Homo sapiens: one gene and its partners. The protein of the gene in region 2 purifies or fractionates together with the protein of the main gene of each other region. This does not show direct contact. Each region holds a gene or a part of one and is shown on either strand. Other genes may lie near its edges.

What was found.
Region 1: the proteins of RPUSD4 (region 2) and MTERF3 purify together in Homo sapiens (affinity purification with mass spectrometry; one large-scale study listed by BioGRID and IntAct). This does not show direct contact.
Region 3: the proteins of RPUSD4 (region 2) and ATE1 purify together in Homo sapiens (affinity purification with mass spectrometry; one large-scale study listed by BioGRID and IntAct). This does not show direct contact.
Region 4: the proteins of RPUSD4 (region 2) and TMED2 purify together in Homo sapiens (co-immunoprecipitation; one large-scale study listed by IntAct). This does not show direct contact.
Region 5: the proteins of RPUSD4 (region 2) and FASTKD2 purify together in Homo sapiens (affinity purification with mass spectrometry; 2 studies listed by BioGRID and IntAct, with this or other methods). This does not show direct contact.
Region 6: the proteins of RPUSD4 (region 2) and RCC1L purify together in Homo sapiens (affinity purification with mass spectrometry; 2 studies listed by BioGRID and IntAct, with this or other methods). This does not show direct contact.
Region 7: the proteins of RPUSD4 (region 2) and UBR1 purify together in Homo sapiens (affinity purification with mass spectrometry; one large-scale study listed by BioGRID and IntAct). This does not show direct contact.

Annotation. Positions count from the first base shown.
Region 1 is NC_000008.11:96,255,111-96,258,610, reverse strand, and holds part of MTERF3 (transcription termination factor 3, mitochondrial isoform 1 precursor), read left to right. Parts: coding exon 1-254; exon of another isoform or gene 255-389; coding exon of another isoform or gene 390-419; intron 420-1,496; coding exon 1,497-1,649; intron 1,650-3,500.
Region 2 is NC_000011.10:126,205,151-126,208,650, forward strand, and holds part of RPUSD4 (pseudouridylate synthase RPUSD4, mitochondrial), read right to left. Parts: intron 632-3,500; coding exon 538-631; intron 463-537; coding exon 318-462; intron 1-317. UniProt on the Homo sapiens protein: Catalyzes uridine to pseudouridine isomerization (pseudouridylation) of different mitochondrial RNA substrates. Acts on position 1397 in 16S mitochondrial ribosomal RNA (16S mt-rRNA).
Region 3 is NC_000010.11:121,921,532-121,925,031, reverse strand, and holds part of ATE1 (arginyl-tRNA--protein transferase 1), read left to right. Parts: intron 1-702; coding exon 703-766; intron 767-2,620; coding exon 2,621-2,683; intron 2,684-3,500. UniProt on the Homo sapiens protein: Involved in the post-translational conjugation of arginine to the N-terminal aspartate or glutamate of a protein. This arginylation is required for degradation of the protein via the ubiquitin pathway. Does not arginylate cysteine residues.
Region 4 is NC_000012.12:123,594,552-123,596,816, reverse strand, and holds part of TMED2 (transmembrane emp24 domain-containing protein 2 isoform 1 precursor), read right to left. Parts: intron 213-2,265; coding exon 88-212; 3' UTR 1-87. UniProt on the Homo sapiens protein: Involved in vesicular protein trafficking. Mainly functions in the early secretory pathway but also in post-Golgi membranes.
Region 5 is NC_000002.12:206,789,606-206,793,105, forward strand, and holds part of FASTKD2 (FAST kinase domain-containing protein 2, mitochondrial), read left to right. Parts: intron 1-966; coding exon 967-1,081; intron 1,082-2,077; coding exon 2,078-2,197; 3' UTR 2,198-3,500. UniProt on the Homo sapiens protein: Plays an important role in assembly of the mitochondrial large ribosomal subunit.
Region 6 is NC_000007.14:75,067,303-75,070,802, reverse strand, and holds part of RCC1L (RCC1-like G exchanging factor-like protein), read left to right. Parts: intron 1-33; coding exon 34-163; intron 164-3,500. UniProt on the Homo sapiens protein: Guanine nucleotide exchange factor (GEF) for mitochondrial dynamin-related GTPase OPA1. Activates OPA1, by exchanging bound GDP for free GTP, and drives OPA1 and MFN1-dependent mitochondrial fusion. Plays an essential role in mitochondrial ribosome biogenesis.
Region 7 is NC_000015.10:43,057,539-43,061,038, forward strand, and holds part of UBR1 (E3 ubiquitin-protein ligase UBR1), read right to left. Parts: intron 2,577-3,500; coding exon 2,514-2,576; intron 2,288-2,513; coding exon 2,164-2,287; intron 1,655-2,163; coding exon 1,547-1,654; intron 892-1,546; coding exon 803-891; intron 1-802. UniProt on the Homo sapiens protein: E3 ubiquitin-protein ligase which is a component of the N-end rule pathway. Recognizes and binds proteins bearing specific N-terminal residues that are destabilizing according to the N-end rule, leading to their ubiquitination and subsequent degradation.

The DNA of each region.
Region 1 (3,500 bases), on a different chromosome or scaffold from region 2:
AAAACGTTTTACTAGACCAGCAAGAACACTGTTACATGGCTTTTCTGCTCAGCCTCAGATATCCTCTGACAATTGCTTTCTCCAGTGGGGATTTAAGACTTACAGGACTTCCTCCTTATGGAATAGTTCCCAGTCTACTAGCTCAAGTAGTCAGGAGAATAATTCTGCCCAAAGCAGTCTGCTTCCTTCCATGAATGAACAGTCACAGAAGACACAAAATATATCCAGCTTTGATTCTGAGCTGTTTCTAGAAGGTAATTCTGAACTTTCAGAAAAGTCTCCCTTTCCCTACTTTGGCCATTTGAACAAGCTACCTGTTTACCTTCTGCTAGCCCATTTCAGGTAATATTTTGTGCCAAGAAAGAAAAAGAATAATACCAGTTCTATTGATGAACTTCTATCATGCCTTTATTTTACTGGTAAGAAAAAAAGTTTGTGGGCTAACGTGTAAGATTATTTTATAGCTACACATATAAAACATTTGCTTTTTAAATATTTTATTGTTTAGATTCTTAAAACAAAATTCTTCTAGTGGTAATTAGTTTTATTAGGGTATAATTATATCAAGTAAAATTCATCTTGTGGGATATATAGTTCTATGAATTTTGACATATGCATTTAGTGTGTAAGAACTACTGCAATCAACAAATAAAACAATTATATTAACTCCACAGAGTTCCCTCATGGTCGCTTTTTAGTCAATCCTCTCCTTCCTATGGGTCCTATTCTAGGAATATTTCGCTGGTAATGAAATGATATAAGGTTAAGTAGAATATGAAGGAAAGAGAGCTGGGGAGAGGGCAGGGAGGAGATGCTGGCTATAAATGATGAGAAAGGATAGTTAATGATGAGAAGCACAAAACAGAACAAAAGATCACAGACCTGATTCCTTAGCTTAAGGTAATGTGTAGTTCTAAGTGTCTTCCATGCTGCGTTTGATTTTAAAAAAACAAAAACAACTTCAGAATCAGGGCTGTACTAGAGAGTCACATCTCCTGTAGAGAGGACTGCAGGTTGTAGAAACAATCATAGAAGCCCTTTTAAAGATGTATTTGAGGGTAACTTGGAAGGGAGGGCATTGGGTCAAAACAAAGACTTTCGGGATATGATTACTTTAATCCATGCAATTCAGACTGTTGGCATATGTGTACTTTTAGCCAAGTTAACAGGCTATGGTAAACTCAATCTCTGTTTCAAAATTCACTTGAAAGTTAGGTGATTTTTAGCATTCTCACCTACTGATTAAGTGAAGGAAAGGCATTGTGTGCTTTGAAATTTACCAACAAATTTCTAATCTCAGAGGAACAGTAGTTAGTCTGTCTAAATAGTTGTAACCTTACCTCTTAAAAGGTGAAAAATTAGGGACTTGGATGTTTAATTCTAAAATGATCCCAAGATTTAACCACTGAAAGAAGCAAACAAGGGAAGAGCTGGTCTTTGCAGAAATAGTTTTAAGTGTGCATATTAGAGCACTAATTTGTTTCTCTCTTTCAAAGAACTGGATGAATTGCCTCCATTGTCTCCAATGCAGCCAATTTCAGAGGAAGAGGCTATTCAGATTATTGCAGACCCTCCATTGCCACCAGCTTCATTCACACTTCGAGACTATGTGGATCATTCTGAGACTCTGCAGAAGTTGGTTCTTCTAGGTAAGTTTGACTAAACTACAAGTACTTTTTGCATGTACTCTTCATTACTTTTTTTACTTTTTTAAATTAACAATTTAATCTATACTAAGTAGTATACAAACATAAGCAAAAGTCTAATAGCATAAAGGCTTCTAGTGAGAAACCGTATTCCCTGCCTCATCCTTGGTGATCTTGCATCCTATTCCCCAGATGCATCTACTTAACTTGTATCATTCTTTCTGTTTGTGTTCAACCTCCTCATTTTAAAATAGTTGTTTGTAGTGCTGTTGTTTGGTTCATCAGTTTTAGACATCATTTGATCTCTTGTATGTACACATGTACTTTTCCTGTATTCTTTTCAATTCTCCTAATATAAATTACAATTTTAGATAAATCATTAGTCAGTAGTTAAATTATGACTATAAATATTGCTATCTGCCCTAACAAGAAGTATGCTATCATTATTTACCTTCCTGTACAACTTTTCATTTTTCCGGCAGTAATAGTTGCCTTGTTCTTCATTTGATGAATTGTTTTGTTTGTTTGTTTGTTTCTGGGGTTAAACTTTTCCATACCTTCCAGTAGCCTCTCAGGACAGTTTTTCCCAGGTAACCCTATCAGATGATGTATTTCATTTCTCCAGAGTGGATTGTTCCCTGCTTGTCACACTACCCCGACCTCCTTCCTGAAGCCACTGTCCTCCTGATTTGAATGGTTTCTAGGCCTACTCTATAGCTGCCTTCACTTGTTGACCATTAGGTTGCACTTGGATCTGGATAGCTTAAGGGAGCCAGGGGATCTCCGTCCAAACTTTCATTTAGTCATCTTATTTTTAGTCTGGCATTTTATTACAAACTTTTGCTTTCCTCATTTCTCTGGGTTTGGTACTTCTCATACTTGATTTTCCCAGATAATGAATCTCCTTTCTCCTAGTGCATTGAGAGGAACTGGATTTGGGGGAGGTCGGGTCTCTCCATACCCAATACCCCAGTTTTTAGTCTGTACCTCACCTCTAATCTCTCAGATTTCTAGGGACTCCAATTTTGGAGACTTTTGAGTTTTTTGTGGTACTGATCACTTACCACTTGCCAGATTCTCATTTGCAGGCATTTCAGTGTCGTCTTTCTCCTCTCCGATAAGGCTGTTGCCATGCTTTCATCTGTTTTCAGATGTTTTCAGATATGTGGGGATATAATCTCGTTTCCTCAAAGAAGGATCTCATTTTTTGTTTGTCATTCCCCATATTTTTGGGAGGTGATTTTTAACAGGAGAGGAAAAAGAGAAAAATCTGTGCTCTGTTAGAAACTTTGGGGGTCATCCTTGATTTTTTTTTTTTTTTTTTTCTTCAGACTGGGTCTCACTCTGTCTCCCAGGCTGGAGTACAGTGGTACCATCTCAGCTCACTGCAACCTGCCTCCCAGGTTCAAGTGATTCTCCTGCCTCAGCCTCCCTGGTAGCTGAGATTACAAGCACGTGCCACCATGCCTGGCTATTTTTTGTATTTTTAGTAGAGACGAGGTTTCACCCTGTTGGCCAGGCTGATCTTGAACTCTTGGCCTCAAGGGATCTGTCCACCTCGGCCTCCCAAAGTACTGAGATTATAGGCATGAGCCACCGCACTCGGCCTATCCTTGATTCTTATTGCTTTTGTCCCCTTCCTCTTTACATCTAATTTAATAGCTTATCCTATGGATTCTACCCTCTCTATTTCTTTCAAATCCATCCACTTCTCTCATCCTACAGTCACTACCTTGTTTAGGTCCTCATTTGTCACTGAGTGGCTGCAGGAGCCTCCTATCTTGATAGTCTTCTCCTCAGCAGTATTGGCTCTGATATCTTTCCAGTGTTAGTGCTCTTTCTGAAATGCAGATC
Region 2 (3,500 bases):
TAACGCTGCTATGAATATGTGTGCAAATATTTGATTTTTGGGGTATATACCCAGAAGTGGAACTGCTGGATCTTACAATAATTCTGTTTAATCGTTTTGAGGAACCACTCTACACAGTTTTAAATAGAGGCATTCAACCTGTTTGTATTCTTCTGCTAGCCACAACCATCTCTCTGGGAGTCCCCGGCCTCAGATCAGCACCAGAAGCACATTCTCACACAAGTCAGCCACACTACTAGCTGCTCAGAACGAGGCCCTGGACAAAACCTGGTGGCACAGGGTTTTGTGATCCCACTGCGGAAAAGTGACACTCTCACCAGTGATGGGCTGGAGCTCCACGAGGGCGGAGGAGAGAGTGCTGCTGAGCACCTGGTACTGAGTTACAGCAACTTGCGCATTCCGGCTGCGCCGCACTTTCACCATTTTCCCATCGTCCATGCGGTAGCTCGGGGACAATGTCATCTGAAGCCAAAGAAATCAAGATATGATTCCCAAGGAAGAGCAGCAACCCATGCCTCAGGGAGGCTGCTCGCTCACCTTGTGGTGTTGCTGCTGGCCTTGCGCCTCCTTCTCCACAATGGGGATGTCCACGACTCCTGCTGAGGGCATGGGGACATGCACAGTGATGGCCCTGGGGGTGACACAGATCACTGCTTTAGCCAACCAAGCCAGAGAAGAACTCCTAGATTTGGCCACTTAGAGGATTTCACGCTGGACCTTCTGCACTAACATGTGATTTCTTATGATTGAAGGATCGTGCAAGATTCTCTTGGTGTAATGCTTAGCCTGAGAGCTGATAGATTTCACAAGCTTATCTTTTTTACTACTAAAGTCATACATGCTAATTGTAGAATATTTGGGGTAAAAAAAGAAAAAAATTACATTAATAACATGGTCTTTCCAGTCTTTAAAAATGGATATGTACAGTTAAAATAAAATTATGGTAATATAGTTTTGTATTTTTTTTCAAATAATAAAAGATTGTAGATTCTGACTGCATGGTAAATGAACAAATGAATAATTGGATGAATGAACCTAATAAAACATTCAGAGAACCGTTCCTGGCTCATTTGCCACATAGGTAAAACAGGAGGGAACTGTACCCGAAGAAGTCACAGGGGACAGGCGTGGTGGCTCACACATGTAATCCCAATACTTTGGGAGGCCAAGGCGGGTGGATCACTTCAGGTCAGGAGTTCAAGACCAGCCTGGCCAACATGGTGAAACCCCATCTCTACTAAAAATACAAAAAAAAAATCAGCCAGGCGTGGTGGCGCGTGCCTGTAATTCCAGCTACTTGGGAGGCTGAGGCATGAGAATCGCTTGAATCCAGGAGGTGGAGGTTGCAGTGGGCCAAGATTATGCCACTGCACTCCAGCCTGGGAGACACAGCAAGACTCCGTCTAAAAAAAGAAAGAAAGAAGTCATAGGTACCACAACCACAACTCAATAACTCATTCCAAATCACTTCTGTTGGTGTTCTCCCTCCCATGACCTCATGACCTCACAGACAGGTAGAAGACTGTTTAATCTGTCTGTAAATTTATGCCTCTTTCAGGTCAATGATGGAAAAGTCCATCTGGGTACCTGGTGGTCGGTTGTATAATCACTAACCACGGGGTCAAAATCCTACTCACACACACTATTTCACAACGCAGACACTCCACTTCAGTTTCAGCTACTATCTGGTACATTTTATCGTATTTTACAGATTTTGTAGATCTTCTGTGACAAGAATGTCCTTCCTAATGATATGACACTACAACTCAAGAATGTTCCATCAGCAAGACCCAACTGATTGATTTCAATTCCTCCATGAACCTGATACCGAGAATGGTTACCAATTTTGAACCTTAATGGACATTTTTCACAAATAACATAACATGTATTTTATAGTCTTAATATTTTGATTGCTTGAATAGAAAAATAAGTCTCTATTTTTTATTTTTTAACTTTTCCTATGAACTAGGTACTGTGTTAAACATTTCACAAGAATCAATCTTATTTAACTATCTCATAAATCCTACTGTTTCCATTTTTCAGATGAAGAAAACAAAGCTTATGGACATTTAATAACCTGCCCAAGGCCCCACAGCTGTTAAATGACACAGTTGAGAGTTGAACACACATCTTTTTGAGGTCTTAGCTACTGTCCTAAATTCCTCCATTCTCCATAATCTTATCATAGTTCTTAAATTTGATTGTATATCAAATTTTAAAATACAGATGCCAATCCCCACAACCACCACACTTACGAATGAGAACTTCTGTGGGTAAGTCTCAATCATACATATTTTTAAAGGGCTCCTCAGATTCACAAAGTATCTGCAAAATCTGTAATCTAAAAAGGACTAACATTCAAAATATAAAATGAATACTTACAAATCAAATAGAAAAGAATAAACAACCTGGGCCAGACACAGTGGCTCACGCCTGTGAGCTGTAAGCGCTGTAATCCTAGCACTTTGATGGACAGATCACTTTAGGTCAGGGGTTCAAGACCAGCCTGGCCAACAGGCTGAAACCCCATCTCTACTAAAAATACAAAAATTAGCTGGGCATGGTGGCATGTGCCTGTAATTCCAGCTAGCTGAAACATGAGAACCACTTGAACCAGGGAGGAGGTTGCAGTGAGCCAAGATTGTGCCACTGCCCTCCAGCCTGGGTGACACAGCAAGACTCCATCTCAAAAAAAAAAGGCCAGGCACGGTCTTAAATAAAAAAAAATAATAATAATAAACAACCCTGTAGAAAAATAGGCAAAAGAAATAATCAGTCTGTTCCCAAAAGGGAAACTCAAATAGCCAATAAACATGTAAAAAACATGTAAATTGATAGCCAATATCACTGTTATACAAGGAAATAGAAAATATCTTTTTTTTTTTTAACTTATCACAGTGGCAAACCCTTTAAAAATGCTTTGGCTGATAAGGGGAGGTGGGTACTCACCACTGCTGGTGGGAATGTAAACTGATAAAAAACCTTTGTGGAGAGCAATGTGAGTACTATTAAAATTTAAATATACAAACCATTCAGCCCAGCGATTCAATTTTTAGAAATTTATCTTAAAAATACATTCACATATTCTTTGCAATAGGCTCTAAAAAATGAGAAATTACCTAAATATCCATCCATACAGCGGTATTTCACAGAGCAATTAAAAAGGAGACAGCTCTAAACGTATGACACAAAATGCTCTAAGATATATGATCCAAGTGAAAACTGTAGGGTACAAAACTCTGTGTGAAATACACTAGCATACAGTAATATGCTTATATATGCTCGATAACTCTGGAAGTTTACAGAAGACACCAGTCACAGCGATTGACGCTGGGGAAGGCAACTGCACAGATGGGGAATAGAGGGTTTCTTTTTTGCTCACGCATCTTTTTTCTATGAAAAACACTGAGGTAAACCTCTATGTGCTAACACAGGATGATCCCCAAGACATAGAGGTGAGCAGAGGAAAAAAGTATAATGTAAATTGTACAATGTGATAT
Region 3 (3,500 bases), on a different chromosome or scaffold from region 2:
GAACTAATAAGCACAAAACATTTTGCTAAGTTTTCTGAAGAGACCAGCATGTTAAATCATTGGGGATATTTATTAAAGTTTGAAGGTCTGATGCAGTCTGATTGCAGTGAGGACTTAAATTTATGCTGTCATAGAGACTATTGACTAATCCTCAAATAAATATAATTAACTTCGATGTGTTTTTTTGAATGAAAATATATATAGTGTCATTCTTTATTTGTGCTGTGTGTATGCCCAACTAACAGCTGTGAAGTATGTACAAACTTTTCATTTATCCAATATGAGTGTTTTGGAATTTTAACCTAAACACTCCTATTTTTTTTTTTTTTTTTGAGATGGAGTCTCACTCTGTCGCCAGGGCTGGAGTGCAGTGGCGTGATCTTGGCTCACTGCAACCTCCGCCTCCCGAGTTCATGTGATTCTCCTGCTGCAGCCTCTTGAGTAGCTGGGATTACAGGCGCCCGCCACTATGCCCAGCTAAATTTTTGTATTTTTAGTAGAGATGGGGTTTCACCATGTTGGCCAGGCTGGTCTTGAACTCCTGACCTTGTGATTTGCCCGCCTTGGCCTCCCAGAGTGCTGGGATTACAGGCATGAGCCACCGTGCCCGGACACACACTCCTATTTTTAAACCTCACACTTTGAATTTAAAAAAGAAAAAAGGTTACCCTGCCGTAATTAACACACTACTTATTTTTTCAGGCATGTGGGCACATTCCATGACAGTACAGGATTATCAGGATCTCATAGACCGAGGATGGCGAAGGTAAAGCTTCCAGATACAAAGAGACTTCCTACTGTTACTCAGGTTCTTGAAAAATACAGCATGCCTTTGAAATGCTTTCCTGTTGGAAAGAGGTTTAAGAAAAATTTTTATTATATTCTTTTATGTAGTGATTTTTTGTCTCCTTTTTAAAAAACTTTGTTAGGAAAATGTCAAATATCTATAAAAGCAGAGAGTACATTAGAATGAACCTCAAGTACCTATCACTAAGCTTCAGCAGTTATTAACGTTCTGCCAATCATGTTTGATTCTCCTGCTCCACCTTTTAATATTTAACAGCAAATTACATCAGTAGGTTATTATGACATTTATCCTATCAATAGATAGGCAATAAGTATGTATCTCTAAGAGAGAGGTCTTTTTTTCTTTTTAACTTATCCACAATGCTGTATCACACCTTACAAAATTAATAAAAATTCTTTGATGTTACCTGTTACCTACTTTTTATTAGATTTTCCAGATTGTCTCAAAAATGTCTTCTTTAACAGTTTATTTGGATAAGGATTTCCTTAAAGTCCACACATGGCCTGTTTTGAGTAGTTATTTTTATGTGGATGATTTTTAAGTAACTCTTAGGTAAAGTTCCTTGTGTAAATATAAGTAATATTAAATACTGTACGCTAATACTTGCCAAAGACGTGGGATTGGGAGCACCAGCTGAAATATCACAACTTTCCTTAAACTTAATGAGATTCAAAAGGTAGACATAGGTCAGATTTTAAAGGACTTCACATGCCATGATAAGGAACTTTTTTTTTTAGAGACATGGTCTCGCTCTGTTGCCCAGGCTAGAGTCGCTCTCTTGCCCAGGCTAGAGTACAGTGCCATCATCATAGCTCACTGTAACCCCAAATTCCCACACTCAAGTGATCCTCTTGCCTCAGCCTCTGCAGTGGCTAGGACTACAGGTGTGCATCACAACACCTGGCTAATTTTTCAGTTTTTTGTAAGATCTTGGCTATGTTGCCCGTGCTGGTCTCGAACATCTGGTTGCAAGTGTTCTTCCAGCTTAGCTTTTCAAAGTGTTGGGATTATAGGTATGAACCACCATGCCTGGCCAGAACTTTTTAGAAGGCAGTCATGGAAGGATTTTATGGTAAGAGAGAAATGTGAAGGAATTTGTTTTAGAAAAGATTGTTCAGATGGCTGAGAGGTATTTGAGGGGGGGTCATAGAGGCAGGAAGATGAGTTCAAAGGTTATTGCGCTATCCAGATGTGCGATGATGAGGACTGTCACCTTAGTGGCAATGGTGATAGAGAAGAGGGGACAATTTAGGATAGGGTTTAAAATGAAGGAAAGCTTGCTAATAGGATATAGAGGTGAATTCCAGGGAGGAGTTTAAAATGACTCCCAGGTCTCTGACTTGAGAACAGAATGAACAGTTCTGTTAGTACCATAGACCTGGAATGCATGGAAAGAAGCGGGTTAGTTTTGGGGTACTCCGTGCTGGTGCATGTGGAATACCCAAGTGTGGTTGTCACAGGCATCACATACATGAGTCCCACAGCATCGTGGGCATTTCTCTCATTGCCCTTGTGGTATTGGGGATTGGTGGCAGGTGAAGGCAGAGCAGGGGTGGCAGATGCTGGTGAGAGGGGAACTGAGATGATTGGCCGTGGGGTACACAAGTAAAGCTTTAGGAAATAAAAGGCAGGGTTCTAAACTTTGCTACACGCACTTTGAAGATTATTTGGCTTATGAAGAGTAATTAAACCTACATGCATTTCTACAATGTTGATTAGATTTTTAACCTTAATTTAATGCTCCTGTGCTAGGCTGTTTTGGTGCAAGTGAAAAATATATAAGACATTAACAAACTATTTTTATAATTTTAGAAGTGGAAAATATGTGTACAAACCTGTCATGAATCAAACATGTTGTCCTCAGTACACAATAAGGTAAGAATTTTAATTAGTAGAAAGAGGATTTATAGTATGAAGATTGTGTATAATATTTTAGTAGTCTCTTGTGCTTTTTTAATGTTTATTTCCGCTCTAGGTAGATGTCCTTTAAAAGGAAAAGTAAATGAGTTATGTCTTTTCTTCATACTGATGCTGTATTTATGTGCTGATCAGTAGGTTTTAGTAATATTGTTTGATTGGTTCAGATATAAATATGTGAAAAAAATACCCTCTTAATTTAGCAATCTTGTCAATGAATGCCATGAAATATTGGGAAAATGTTGGTAAATATTCACATTACTTTTGGATATTAAATATTATAGGACTTAGCTTAGAATTTTCTGCATTCTGGTGTATTGCTTGACACAGTGCTTGTGTTCAAGCAATGCTACAGGCTCCTATAAATTACTTGGTAGGTTCACGTTCTCATGTTGTGGGATTCAGGAGGACAAGAGAGACCTCGGGTTAAAACAGGAGAAACTTTATTGAGTGCACTTAGGCCCAGCTGACTCAACGTCTAAAAGACTGGGCCCGGAACAAAGACTTTTATACACAGTTCACAGAAGGGGGTGGGCTAGCTTGAAGCAAGCTTACAGTGGCGTGAAAGCAGGGATACAGAGGCAGGACAAACTCAGGATTGCACATGACCGTTGCCAAGCAACCCAGATGTCCGTTATCTAGGTTTGCCTGGGCTTATCCCATAATCTTCACTATGGTGCCCAGGCAGCTGCAGTTCAGGCCTACTCAGGCTTCTCATGACATTCATTGTACTTCTCAGATAAAACAATACTTGAAGTCACTAGTTACAGAGAAC
Region 4 (2,265 bases), on a different chromosome or scaffold from region 2:
TAAAAATGGAGAAACTAATGACATTATTATGACCAAGGTGTTTGGTAAACAGTGAATTCTGAGTTGGGATCATCAGGAAGAGGCTTTTTAAACAACTCTCCGGACTTCAAAAAATCTCTTCAGGTAGTAGATCTGTCCCAATGTCATGGCAACTAGAACAAGAGCTTCAAAGAAGGACCAAAGGACCACTCTGCTGTTTGTGTTGTCGTTGACTGTTGAGGACAAAACAAACAAACAAAATTTAACAATTCTCCCCCAAAAAGACATAGGCATCATAAATATTTTAGTCTTCACTCTGTGTGAAAGTAATATTGTGTACACCACTCATAGAATAGATGTTCCTCAACTTACGATGGGGTTACATCCCAATAAACCCAGCTTATGTTGAAAATACATAAGTCAAAAATATATTTAATACACCTAACCTAGCAAACATCATAGCTTAGCCTAGCCTACGTAAAACACGATCAGAACACTTACATTAGCCTACAGTTGAGCAAAAGCATCTAACAACACAAAGATTATTTTATAATAAAGTGTTGTGTATCTCATACACGTTAAACTGCATTTTATTATTATTTTCTATTTTATTTATCAAGTTAGTGAACACTGCACTGAAAGTAAAAAACAGAATGGTTGCATGGGTACTTGATGCTCAGTTTCTTCTGAATGCACATCACTTTTGCACCATCATAAAGCTGAAAATTTCTAAGTGAAGTCATTGTAACCTATGGGTCACCTATACTCTAAATACTTTTGTCTCCAAGCAACTCAACATACTCCAAAGCAAAGACTTTTTTGTTTGCTCTGTTGCCCAGGCTGGAATGCCATGACACAATCATAGTTCACTGCAACCTTGAACTGTACTCAAGCAATCCTGCCACCTCAGCCTCCTGAGTAGCTGGGAGTACAGGTATGCACCAGCCCATTTGACTAATTTTTTCTGTTTTTGTAGAGAAAGGGTCTTGCTATGTTGCCCAAGTTGGTCTTGAACTCCTGGCCTCAACTGATCCTCCTGCCTCAGCCTCCCAAAGTAGAAGCAAAGATTTTTAAAAGAAACCTTAAAGATTCACTGGGTACAGCCAAGTCCATTCTGCTTGTATATGGGGAGCAGAGAAGAAAATGTGACTTGCCCAAGGTCATAATTCTAGGGTTAAAACCCAATACAACCATCTTTCTCCCTCACCATTGAAACGTCCTGTATTAGTATCCAATTTGCTGAATCAGAAAACTGACTTCTAAAAAAATTAAGGAATTATTTCAAAATCACAGTTATCCAAAATGCAATTATTTACAACATCAAAATATGGCAGTCTGAGTGTCTTTTTCCCCAAATATGTTACAAATATTTGTTGAGCACCTGTGTACTTGTCAATTGTTCTCAATGGAAGAGGTTACTCAGTTATATGGATCCATACTGACAGTTACTACCAGACCATCAAATACAAGACAAACTATGCTCATCTGTCCTGCTCTCAAACTAAGGATTTGATCCTTAAAGTAAAATCCACACCTACTCTATATTTACTATACTCTATTTGTTACATTCAAGTTTCTGATCAAATTCTTTTTATTTACTTACTTTTTTTTGAGTCAGAGTCTCACTGTCACCCAGGCTGGAGGGCAGTGGCGCAATCTCAGCTCACTGCAACCTCTGCCTCCTGGGTTCAAGTGATTCTCCTGTCTCAGACTCCTGAGTAGCTGGGATTACACGTGCACACCCCCATGCCTGGCTAATTTTTGTATTTTTAGTAGAGATAGGGCTTCACCATGTTGGTCAGGCTGGTCTTGAACTCTTAACCTCAGGTGATCTGCCTGCCTCGGCCTCCCAAAGTGCTGGGATTATAGGCATGAGCCACCACGCCTGGCCAAATTCTTTTTATTTTTAAATGTATTTTATTATTATTATTATTTTATTTTTTATGTTTTGAGACAGAGTTTCACTCTTGTTGCCCAGGCTGGAGTGCAATGACGCGATCTCAGCTCACTGCAACCTCCACCTCCTGGGTTCAAGCGATTCTCCTGCCTCAGCCTCCCAAGTAGCTGAGCTTACAGACATGTACCACCATACCTGACTAATTTTGTATTTTTAGTAGAGATGCGGTTTCTCCATGTTAGTCAGGCTGGTCTCGAACTCCCGACCTCAGGTGATCCACCCACCTCGGCCTCCCAAAGTGCTGGGATTATAGGCATGAGCCATCACGCCTGGCCAATTTATTTTATTTTTTTAAAAACGGTCTCGTGTTGCCCAGGTTGGTCTCAAGC
Region 5 (3,500 bases), on a different chromosome or scaffold from region 2:
TAAATATGATAGAAACATACAAAAAAATCTGTAGGGATCCAAGCTCTTATCTGCCCATCCCTCTTCATTCACACACAGTTCTGTGACTTTCACCTCTTTCTGAATGCATCTAGCTTATTTCTTGGCCATCTTTTCAACCGCTGTCTTTCCTATTAGTGCTACCCATCTCCCCTCAGAAGAGGCTTTCTCTCTGACCTCATTCCAAGATCAGTTTTCTTTTTCGGGTACTCCGCTATTCTGGCATAATAAAATAACAGTTGTTCTCAGCATAAAGTCATGAGAAGTGAAGAATGTGAGCATTCCTTTAAAAACATAAAATTTGTCTTATAACAGCCAGAGTATAGGTGAAGGCAGTAAGGATATAAATGTCTTTTTTTTTTCTTTTTTTCTCCCAGTAAACTTAGTATTTCCAAAGTGCCAGGAACAATGAAAAAACAAATTACACCTTCCACATTTTCGTTATATTTACAGATTTTATTTTAACAGTCTTGCCTTTCTCTTGGTGTTTTCTTTCTTGTATTTAAACTCCTATTTCTGTTTTTTAAATGCTGCTTTCTCTGGGAGATGATATGTGTAAGAAGAGCATTTACTATTTGGTATTATTTACACCGTTACTACTACTGGTAGAATAAATAATTATACTCAGATCAGAAATCAGCACTACACAGAAAACCCTTAAAATTGGTGCTTTCATGTCTGAAAATTTTCCTCTTCAAAAATGTAGCCATCCTTAAAGGGAACTGAGAGGTAACTGTGTATAATGTTGTATATTTTTGATTTATAAAGTAGCCTTGTATAGTGGAATATCTGCAGAGGCCAAGTAAAAGAAGTGAAGGACTAAGACAGGAATATCAAGGATTGTGGTCGGTGGAGAGCTCAACTTGGAAATCTCCAGAGAACAAGAATGCAGCAAGACTAAATAGTAATATCAATAACTGTTCTTGTTTTGTTTATTTTTGTTTTCAGAGTAGCTGTGCTATGTGTTTCCAGATCTGCTTATTGTTTGGGTTCAAGCCACCCCAGAGGATTCCTTGCTATGAAAATGCGGCATTTGAATGCAATGGGTTTTCATGTGATCTTGGTGAGAAAAAAATGCAAATGAAATATTCTTTAATTACTGATGTACATTCTAACAGCTGCCAGGAATCTTGTGGTTGAGACTGGTTACTAGGACTAGAGGAATTGTCAGCATTATTGGAATGAGTGCTTTAGTTACTGTTTTCTTTGAAAAAGAACATTGCTAGTACACGATTTGGGTTCTGCTCAGCTGATTACTGTCATTACTAGAGCTTTTACAAATGTTGTTCTGGTCAGCTTTAATCCTTTTTTGCTAAGAAGAAGAATGCAAATAATATATTTTCATATTTAAGATACACAAAACCATATTTAATTTCCAGGTTATCTTGAACAAGGGAAGGAAAGATGTTAAAGCTTTGTTTTCATGGCCTGTGTGAAGCTGTTACAGGATGTTTGTTGCCAGAAAAGGCTGGATGGTTTTAAGAAGATGGGTCTTTCTCTTCCCTCTTATGCTTCAATTTTATTTTGTACCCCACAGCTTCTCTTGAACAGCCTCTTCTGATGTTTCTAGGTAGTAGGAACCTTACAAATACATTTATATATATGTTGCTGTTGGAATCTATCTAAATGCCACTCATTTGGTCCTGCGCATAATGTAAGATGTAAACATTCCAAGTCTTCTATTATTATACTTTAGTATTGGAAATGGATTACGTGTGGACTATTGAGATTAAGATGACTCCTTTCTCTTAGTGGGCTACTATTTAAGACTTTGTTTTTTATATTGCTGATTATATATATTCTAAGGAAGATTTTCTCAAGAAAGCAGTTTTTGCACCATTTAGAGGACCTTTAAAATTTGTATAATTTTCACAGTTAAAGCTTTCTTAAACCCTAGCATGTAGTCTTATTATGCCTTTAAAATATGAGTAGTTATAAGGTCACATTTGCTTTCAAAAAGCTATTGTCCTCATGTTACTTTACTATGTTTGGATCTCTAAACTAGCTCTTTTGTTAGTATCGTCTCACAAACTGATTATTTTCCTCTTTCTTTGGTAAGGTCAATAACTGGGAGATGGACAAACTAGAGATGGAAGATGCAGTCACATTTTTGAAGACTAAAATCTATTCAGTAGAAGCTCTTCCTGTTGCTGCTGTAAATGTGCAAAGCACACAATAAAGTGAAAATCAACCTTTTCATATTAGGAGACATGCATTTGTAAAAATTAATAAAGATGACAAGTCAGTTGTCAATGGAATTGAGCTATCTGCTAAGACAAAAAATGTTACCTCAGTTCACTATTAAAATTAATTTTAGGAGTGGAAGAAATGTTGTTACTGCCATTTAAAAATATGCTGAGAAAATTCCAGAAGGGTTATTTTTCCAACCACACCTATTCCCTCTAGTGCCCAGATATTTGATTTGTGAGCTGTACGTTTCACCTTTTCATCTTTGATCTACTAAAAACTGGTTTCTTAGTTGTGAGGTGTCACAGGCAGGTTGATGTGGGTAGTAGTCCTTGTCTTTGGAATCTGAATATTTATACTCCTGCTCTAAGCTGTTCTAAGACTTGGGGTTATGCCTTTAAATCATTTTCAAGCATTGGCCAAATAATAATTGGACAAAGTTCTAAAGTTGTCAAGTGTGTAAGAATTAGTGAGGTAGCTGTTGAAAATGAGTGAGGATGGTATTTGTATTTGTAATAAGCACTGCAGGTAGAGATATTTCATGGGTTATAATAAGAGAAACACAGATGAGATGTAGATGGTAAGGAGTCTTACTGTTGTTGGGGTCCTTCCTTTCTCTTTCTTTTTTCCCCCTTACCCCTCCCACAATTTCATGAAGTCTTTTAAATTAAATATATAGCTGAATTGTGTTGTGAATCAGACCTGAGGACTATTTTTTCGATTATGTGTGTTCATTCTTTGTTCAAATATTTGTCCAAATTCAACTATTTTGTTCAATATGCCTGTCTACCTAGTATTTGGCTCGCTGGGGATATAGTGATGAATAGGCATGGTCTCTTGTGGAACTTACAGCATGGGTTCCATGCAAGTTGGTGTTATTCTGCCCCCAAGCACACAGACATGCAATTACTAGACATCTTAGTATGTGCCGGGCACTGCTAAGTATTCATTTGTGTGCTGCCTTTTCATGATCTGAACCCTTTGAGGTGTAGCTGCTATTATGATTCTCTCTGTGTCTTCACTTCCTCATCTCTAAAATCAGGATAGGTATTTGCCCAAGGCTACACAGAGTAGGGGAGGGCTGGAGTTTGAATGTGAGCTAACATAGGCTTATAAGAAAATACAAAAACTGGGCTGGGCACGGTGGCTCGTGCTTGTCATCCCAGCACTTGGGAGGCCGAGGTGGGCTGATCATGAGGTCAGGAGGTCAAGACAATCCTGGCCAACACGGTGAAACCCCATCTCTACTAAAATACAAAAAATTAGCCGGGCATGGTGGTGCATGCCTATAATCC
Region 6 (3,500 bases), on a different chromosome or scaffold from region 2:
ATCAGTTCATGCTTTGTGGGAACTGCTTTTCAGATTTCATCTGCTGCTTGCGGCTATGGATTCACACTGCTGTCCTCTAAGACTGCGGATGTTACGAAAGTCTGGGGGATGGGACTCAACAAAGATTCTCAGCTTGGATTTCACAGGAGCCGGAAAGATAAAAGTGAGCATCCCTACCTTGTCTCCTCTTTGCCGGGATTGGTCTGAGAAAGCTCTTTTTTTGTATTTTTTTTGAGACAGAGTCTCAGTCTGTTGCCAGGCTAGAGTGCAGTGGCGAGATCCTGGCTCACTGCAACCTCCACCTCCCGGGTTCAAGTGATTCTCCTGCCTCAGCCTCCCGAGTAGCTGGGATTACAGGCACATGCCACCATGCCTGCCTAATTTTTGCATTTTTAGTAGAGTTGGGGTTTCACTATGTTCACCAGGCTGGTCTCGAACTCCTGAGCTCAGGTGATCCACCCTCCTCAGCCTCCCAAAGTGCTGTGATTACAGGCATGAGGCACAGCGCCCAGCCCTCCCTTTGGTGTTCAAGAACATGGTTACATAAACAAAGAAATAGCAAAGAAATAGAGGAAGACTTAAAGGGATGTTGTTTGAAACCATCTGGGCTAGGTTATTTTTTAGCCTCTTTGGTAACAATGTTGAACCCTCAGGCAAAAGGCAAGCACCTGGCATTTGCAGATAAGTAAAGATGTTCTTTTGTGGCCTAAAAGAGATGACCTTTTTTTCCTGGCTTGGAGACAGACAGCGTGAAGTACTCTGCAGTGCCTAGAATATGTTTTGGAGGGAAAAAGCATTGAAATCGTTAACATGGAGGCTTTATTCCAAATGTTTGAGCCTTGGATTGTAAAAATGTTAGAAATAACTTATAATGGCATTTTAAAAAGTAGACATTAGCCTGGCTGGGCGTGGTGCCTCACGCCTGTAGTCCCAGCACTTTGGGAAGCCGAGGAGGGCAGCCTGTAATCCCAGCACTTTGGGAAGCCGAGGAGGGCAGATCACTTGAGGCCAGGAGTTCGAGACCAGCCTGGCCAACATGGTGAAACCCCGTCTCTACTAAAAATATAAAAAATTAGCCGGGCATGGTGGCACGCACCTGTATAGTCCCAGCTACTTCGGAGGCTGAGGCACAAGAATCTCTTGAACCTGGGAGGTGGAGGTTGCAGTGAGTCGAGATCATGCCACTACACTCCAGCTTGGGTGACAGAGTGAGACTGTCCTAAACAAACAAACAAACAAACAGAAAAGTAGACATTAGCTAAAAATTACTGTGAGAACAGTAAGAAATATTTCCTTGGCCAGGCACAGGGGCTCACGCCTGTAATCCCAGCACTTTGGGAGGCCGAGATGGGAGGGATTGCTTGAGGCCTGGAGTTCCAGACCACGCTGGGCAACATAGCGAGACTCTGTCTCTAAAAAAAAGAAATGAAAAACGAAAAAGAATTAGCTGAGCATGGTGGCATGCACCTATAATCCTAGTTACTCCAGAGGCTGAGGTAGGAGGATTGCTTGAGCCCAGGAGTTTGAGGCTGCAGTGAGCGGTGATTGCGCCACCGCACTCCAGCCTGGGCAACAGAGCAAGATCATGTCTCTTAAAAAAAAGAAAAAAGAAAGAGTTCCTAAAATAGAGAGGAAATGCCAGGCGCAGTGGCTCACGCCTGTAATCCCAGCACTTTGGGAGGCCGAGGCGGGTGGATCACGAGATCAGAAGTTTGAGACCAGCCTGACCAACATGGTGAAACCCCGTCTCTACTAAAAATGCAAAAATTAGCTGGGCATGGAGGCGCGCGCCTGTAATCCCAGCTATTCGGGAGGCTGGGGCAGGAGAATCGCTTGAACTGGGAGGCAGAGGTTGCAGTGAGCCGAGATCGCACCACTGCCCTCCAGCCTGGGCGACAGGGCAAGACTCCGTCTCAAAATAAATAAAAGATAAATAAATAAATAAATATAAAATAACATAGGAAATTACCCAGAAGTACATACTGGACAAACCTTTCATTTTTGTTTTTTCCTGTTCCCTTGTTCACAGACAAATACATTTTTACATACATAGCATATATTTTGTTTTCTGTCTTTTTTCATTTATTTTGTATCAGATATCTTTTTTGTTTGTTTGTTTGAGATGGAGTCTTGCTGTCGCCCAGGCTGGAGTGCAGTGGCATGATCTCAGCTCACTGCAACCTCCACCTCCTGGGTTCAGGTGATTCTGTTGCCTCGGCCTCCTGAGTAGCTGGTACTACAGGCGCCCGCCATCACACCTGGCTAATTTGGGGATTTTAGTAGAGACGGGGGTTTCACCACGTTGGCCAGGTTGGTGTTGAACTCCTGACCTCAAGTGGTCCACCTGCCTTGGCCTCCCAGAGTGCTGGGATTACAGGTGTGAGCCACCATGCCCGACCTATATATCAGATGTCTTTTATAAGTCAGTATAGAAGTCTTTATTAGCTGTAAGATGTTACATTACTTTTTTTTTTTTTTTTTTGAGTCAGAGTTTCACTCTCGTTGCCCAGGCTGGAGTGCAATGGCGTGATCTTGGCTGACCGCAGCCTCCTCCTCCTGGATTTAAGCAATTCGCTTGCCTCAGCTTTCCAGGTAGCTGGGATTTACAGGCATGTGCCACCATGCCTGGCTAATTTTGTATTTTTAGTAGAGATGGGGTTTCTCCACGTTGGTCAGGCTGGTCTCAAGCTCCCGACCTCAGGTGATCCACCTGCCTCGGCCTCCCAAAGTGGTGGGATTACAGGCGTGACCCACCGTGCCCGGCCCGCGTTACATTTTTTATACCTTTTATTCAGAGCAATTTTAGACTTACAGAAGTGTGCAGAGTAGTATGATGTGGCATCACCAGCTTCAGGCATCATCAACTCATGCCAGTCTCGTTTTCTTCATTTTTCCCACCTTCCCCCTCAATAAATTTGAAGCAAATTCCAACAGTTTAATTTTTTGGGGGGGTAAGGGGAGACAGGGTCTTGCCCTGTCACCCATGCTGGAGTGCAGTGTCATGATCACTGCTCACTGCAGCCTTAACCTCCCTGGCCCAAGTGATCCTCCCATCTCAGCCTCCAAAGTAGCTGGAAGTGATCCTCCCACCTCAGCCTCCCAAGTAGCTGGGACCAACAGGCATGCACCATGATGCTTGGCTGATTTTTGTATTTTTGTATTTTTTTTTTAAAACAGTGTCTCGCTCTGTCTCCCAGAAGGCTGGAGTGCAGTGGTGCAATCTTGGCTCACTGGCAACCTCCGCCTCCTGGGTTCAAGCAGTTCTCCTGCCTCAGCCTCCTAAGTAGCTGGGACTACAGGCGTCCACCATCACGTCTGGCTAATTTTGTATTTTTAGTAGAGACGGGGGTTTCACCTTGTTGGCCAGGTGGGTATCAAACTCCTGACCTCAAGTGATCCGCCTGCCTTGGCCTCCCAAAGCGCTGGGATTACAGGCATGAGCCACTGCCCGGCCAAGATTTCTTTAATAAGAAGACGAAGTATGCATTTTTTTTTTTTTT
Region 7 (3,500 bases), on a different chromosome or scaffold from region 2:
ACAAAAAGATACAGTAAGGTAAGAGATACACGATAGATTAATAAAACATTAAAAAGCTGTAAATTTTAGCCTTATGCTTTAGCTTCCAAAAACTAAGTAGAACTCTTGGCCACCTAATTCCTGCCCCCCACTTTAGCATACACATCTGTTCTTCTTTCCTGCTATACTTTTCAATTAGTCACTTCTATTCTTATTGTAATTTTACTAACAGGCAAATAAATGATTAGGAAGACTGAATGCATATGTGAATGTGATAACCTCCCTTTGCTCTGGGTCAGTGGGTCATTTTCCACCTATCTCTTCTCTAAGAATGCTGTTTCTATACTAGCAAATAACATTTGTGAAAATATTTATATAACGTATGAGAACGAACTTTTTTTTTTTTTTTGAGATGGGAGTCTCACTCTGTTGCCCAGACTAGAGGGCAGTGGCGCGATCTTGGCTCACTGCAACCTCTGCCTCTCAGGTTCAAGTGATTTTCCTGCCTCAGCCTCCTGAGTAGCTGGGACTACAGGCACCTGCCACCATGCCTGGCTAATTTTTGTATTTGTAGTAGAGACGGGGTTTCACCGTGTTGGCCAGGCTGGTCTCGAGCTCCTGACTTCAAATGATCCACCCACCTCAGCCTCCCAAAGTGCTGGGATTACAGGCGTGAGCCAACCCGCAGGGCCAAGAACAAACTTTTGACAAAGAAATAAATCATAACATTTAATTTTTGATTCATAATTATCCCTGTTTCTATTAATTCATTTATAAAAACTGCCTATTTCTATTTATTGATATCTAATTTATAAATAATTACCTTCACAAATTCCATAGCAAAGAGTTTTTTGTATTCCATCTCCATAAAAAAACTGCTGAAGATCAATTCATGAAGGATCTTACGGGCACCTATAGATTATTTTGGGGAGGGTGGGGGAATGAGGAGAATCACCAAGGCAAAAACCAAAAACATTCTGGCTATTAGAGTGGCAGAATATTATAAAATTACTTCACATGCAAACAGACCTCAAATAGTATTTATTGTATTAATATTTAATAACTGGAATTTAAAATACACACATATATTGCCTTTTCCCTCTTTTTCTGCACCCCTCCCACCACTTCATCTTACACTTCAATTTACTCTCTCCCAACCTTTTCATTCTTTTTCTATTTCACTGTACTTTTCCTTCTCCATGCTTTTAGCCTTTTACGTTTTGTTCTTCATTTAGATTTTTACAATGAAAATAGCATCTTTTTCGCTACTCGATAATGGCACTACTACCTGAATATATAGATACATGTATAGACACATACATATATACTCTTTTTGACTGGCTCTCACTAAATGAAAAGACTCTATAATTAAAAGACAACATCCCTGGGTTTTAACACCAAAGAATACATACTGACTGGTTAAACTTTATATTCACATGTAGTATCTTATCAATCAAGATTACAGATTTAATAACTAATTTAATAAACAAAAGATATTACAGCTCCACTTTAAGGTCATAATCTTCCTTTGCTTCCTGACAAACAGCATAAGCAAATGTCTACTTACCTTTATAAAGCTTTGCATCCCAAAGCATTAACCTGCTTATGAGACAGGGATTCTCCGAGTCAGGTTCTTCTCTAAGGCATGCTTGGCAAAAGATCTGCCTAAAGTCACCTACAAACAAAAGAGGTCACACAGTTACACAACTTGTATTCTTTTTCTTTTTAAATAGAGATGAGTCTCACTCTGTTGCCCAGGTTGGTCTTGAACTCCTGGGCTCAAGCGATCCTTCCACCTCAGCCTCTCACAGTGCTGGCATTACAGACATGAGCCCCTGTACTCAGCCATAATTTTTATTCTTATAACATTTCTCCTAAAAGTACATTTCCTATAACATGTGAAAAGAATAATATTAATCCTCCCACATTTGAGGCAAAGAATAATTCTGTCAACATCAAAGACTCAACAGCCAATAAAAAGATATTATTTGATACTATGCACTTGAAATAATATCCTAAGATATTATACATTTGAAATGCAACCCTGAAAATTAATCAAAGTGTATAAACCAAAAAAAAAAAAAAAAGAAAAACTTTATTTCATACTCAATGACATTTTAAAATTTGTGGCTATAAAACACATAGTATTTTATCAGAAACAAGAAAAACAGGAGGTATGCTTACTTGAATAGCTCATAATTTTGTTCATCCAGGAACCAAGACGCAAAGCAAATTTCTGATGAGCCATAATCTCTGAGTGTAATACTTCTACATGAAGTGGATGTTGAGAGACATTTTCTGAATGACTCTACAAATGAAGGGAACGAACCAAAAAAATAGCATTTAAAATTTGCTTTTAGTTAAGGGATTTATACTTCAAATGAAGAAATCACATAACCCTGCCAGTTCCAAATCTCTGCATCTAGGTGCCCCAAACCACTTCAACGACATCATCACTCAAATTATTCTACTTGGGCTCTTGTAATGTACATTCATCTTTAACTTCTCTTTTTCCCCCTAATTCAGAAAGTTACCTTTATATCTTCCTTTGCTTCCTGGCAAGCAGCATAAGCTCCCGCTTTAACAGCCCGACGACCCTAATTATAGACAAAAGTGAGAATTAGGTAGTGAAATGATAACCACAATCAATAAGCAATATGTAGCCCAAAGACTTAATGAGCTCTTAACTGAGCTCTAATCGCGTGTTGACTAAAAGTTGTAAGATACCGGAACAATATCTGAAAGACAGATGCAAATGTTTAACACCTTTATGAAGTATGAAAACTTTAATACCTCTAGGACAGACAGTCTATAGTTTAAGATGCTGAGTTTCTTGCCTGGCAGGAATGGCAGTTCTTTAGTTACTGCAGTGTCCTCTCTACTTATATGAAACAATGACTCAGGCTTTCTAAACTTCTGCTATGTATTTAAAATATTTTTCATGAATGAATTCACAGCTCTTCAACATGTATCCTATGATATACTTGTGGCCCATTAACGAGCGGGAAGTATAGCTGGACTACTGATTCCACCAGTCCTGGAGGCGGTCATGCAAGGTCTATGTAGGATTTCCTTGTAGCTCATTCTTTTACCCACCTGTAAAAATTCATCATTTTCTATATGTGCCATGTGAAAAAAGTCAGGAAGCACTGTCTTCCTCATTTAACCTTTACAATGACCCTATGAAGAAGGTATACCACATTTTACAGATGATAAAAAGAAAAATAAGACAGAAGTTAATTTGTCCCCCAATCAGAAAGTTAGCAAGTGACAGATTCAGAGATCCATGACAAGCATTTCATCTCCAGAGTCTGTACTTTTAACCATCCTGTAATATTCCCTCTTTAGCTGCTTAGTACATAAGCATAAGAACTATCCAAATATATTTGGACTACTAATTACACCAGTAAGGTTGCCATTACAGAAAAAAAAAAAAAAAGCACAAAAAGCCAGGCCATAAGAGATTGTTAAAAGAACAGATTGGACAAGAATAGTTACATAAACTCGAGCTCAATCAGCTT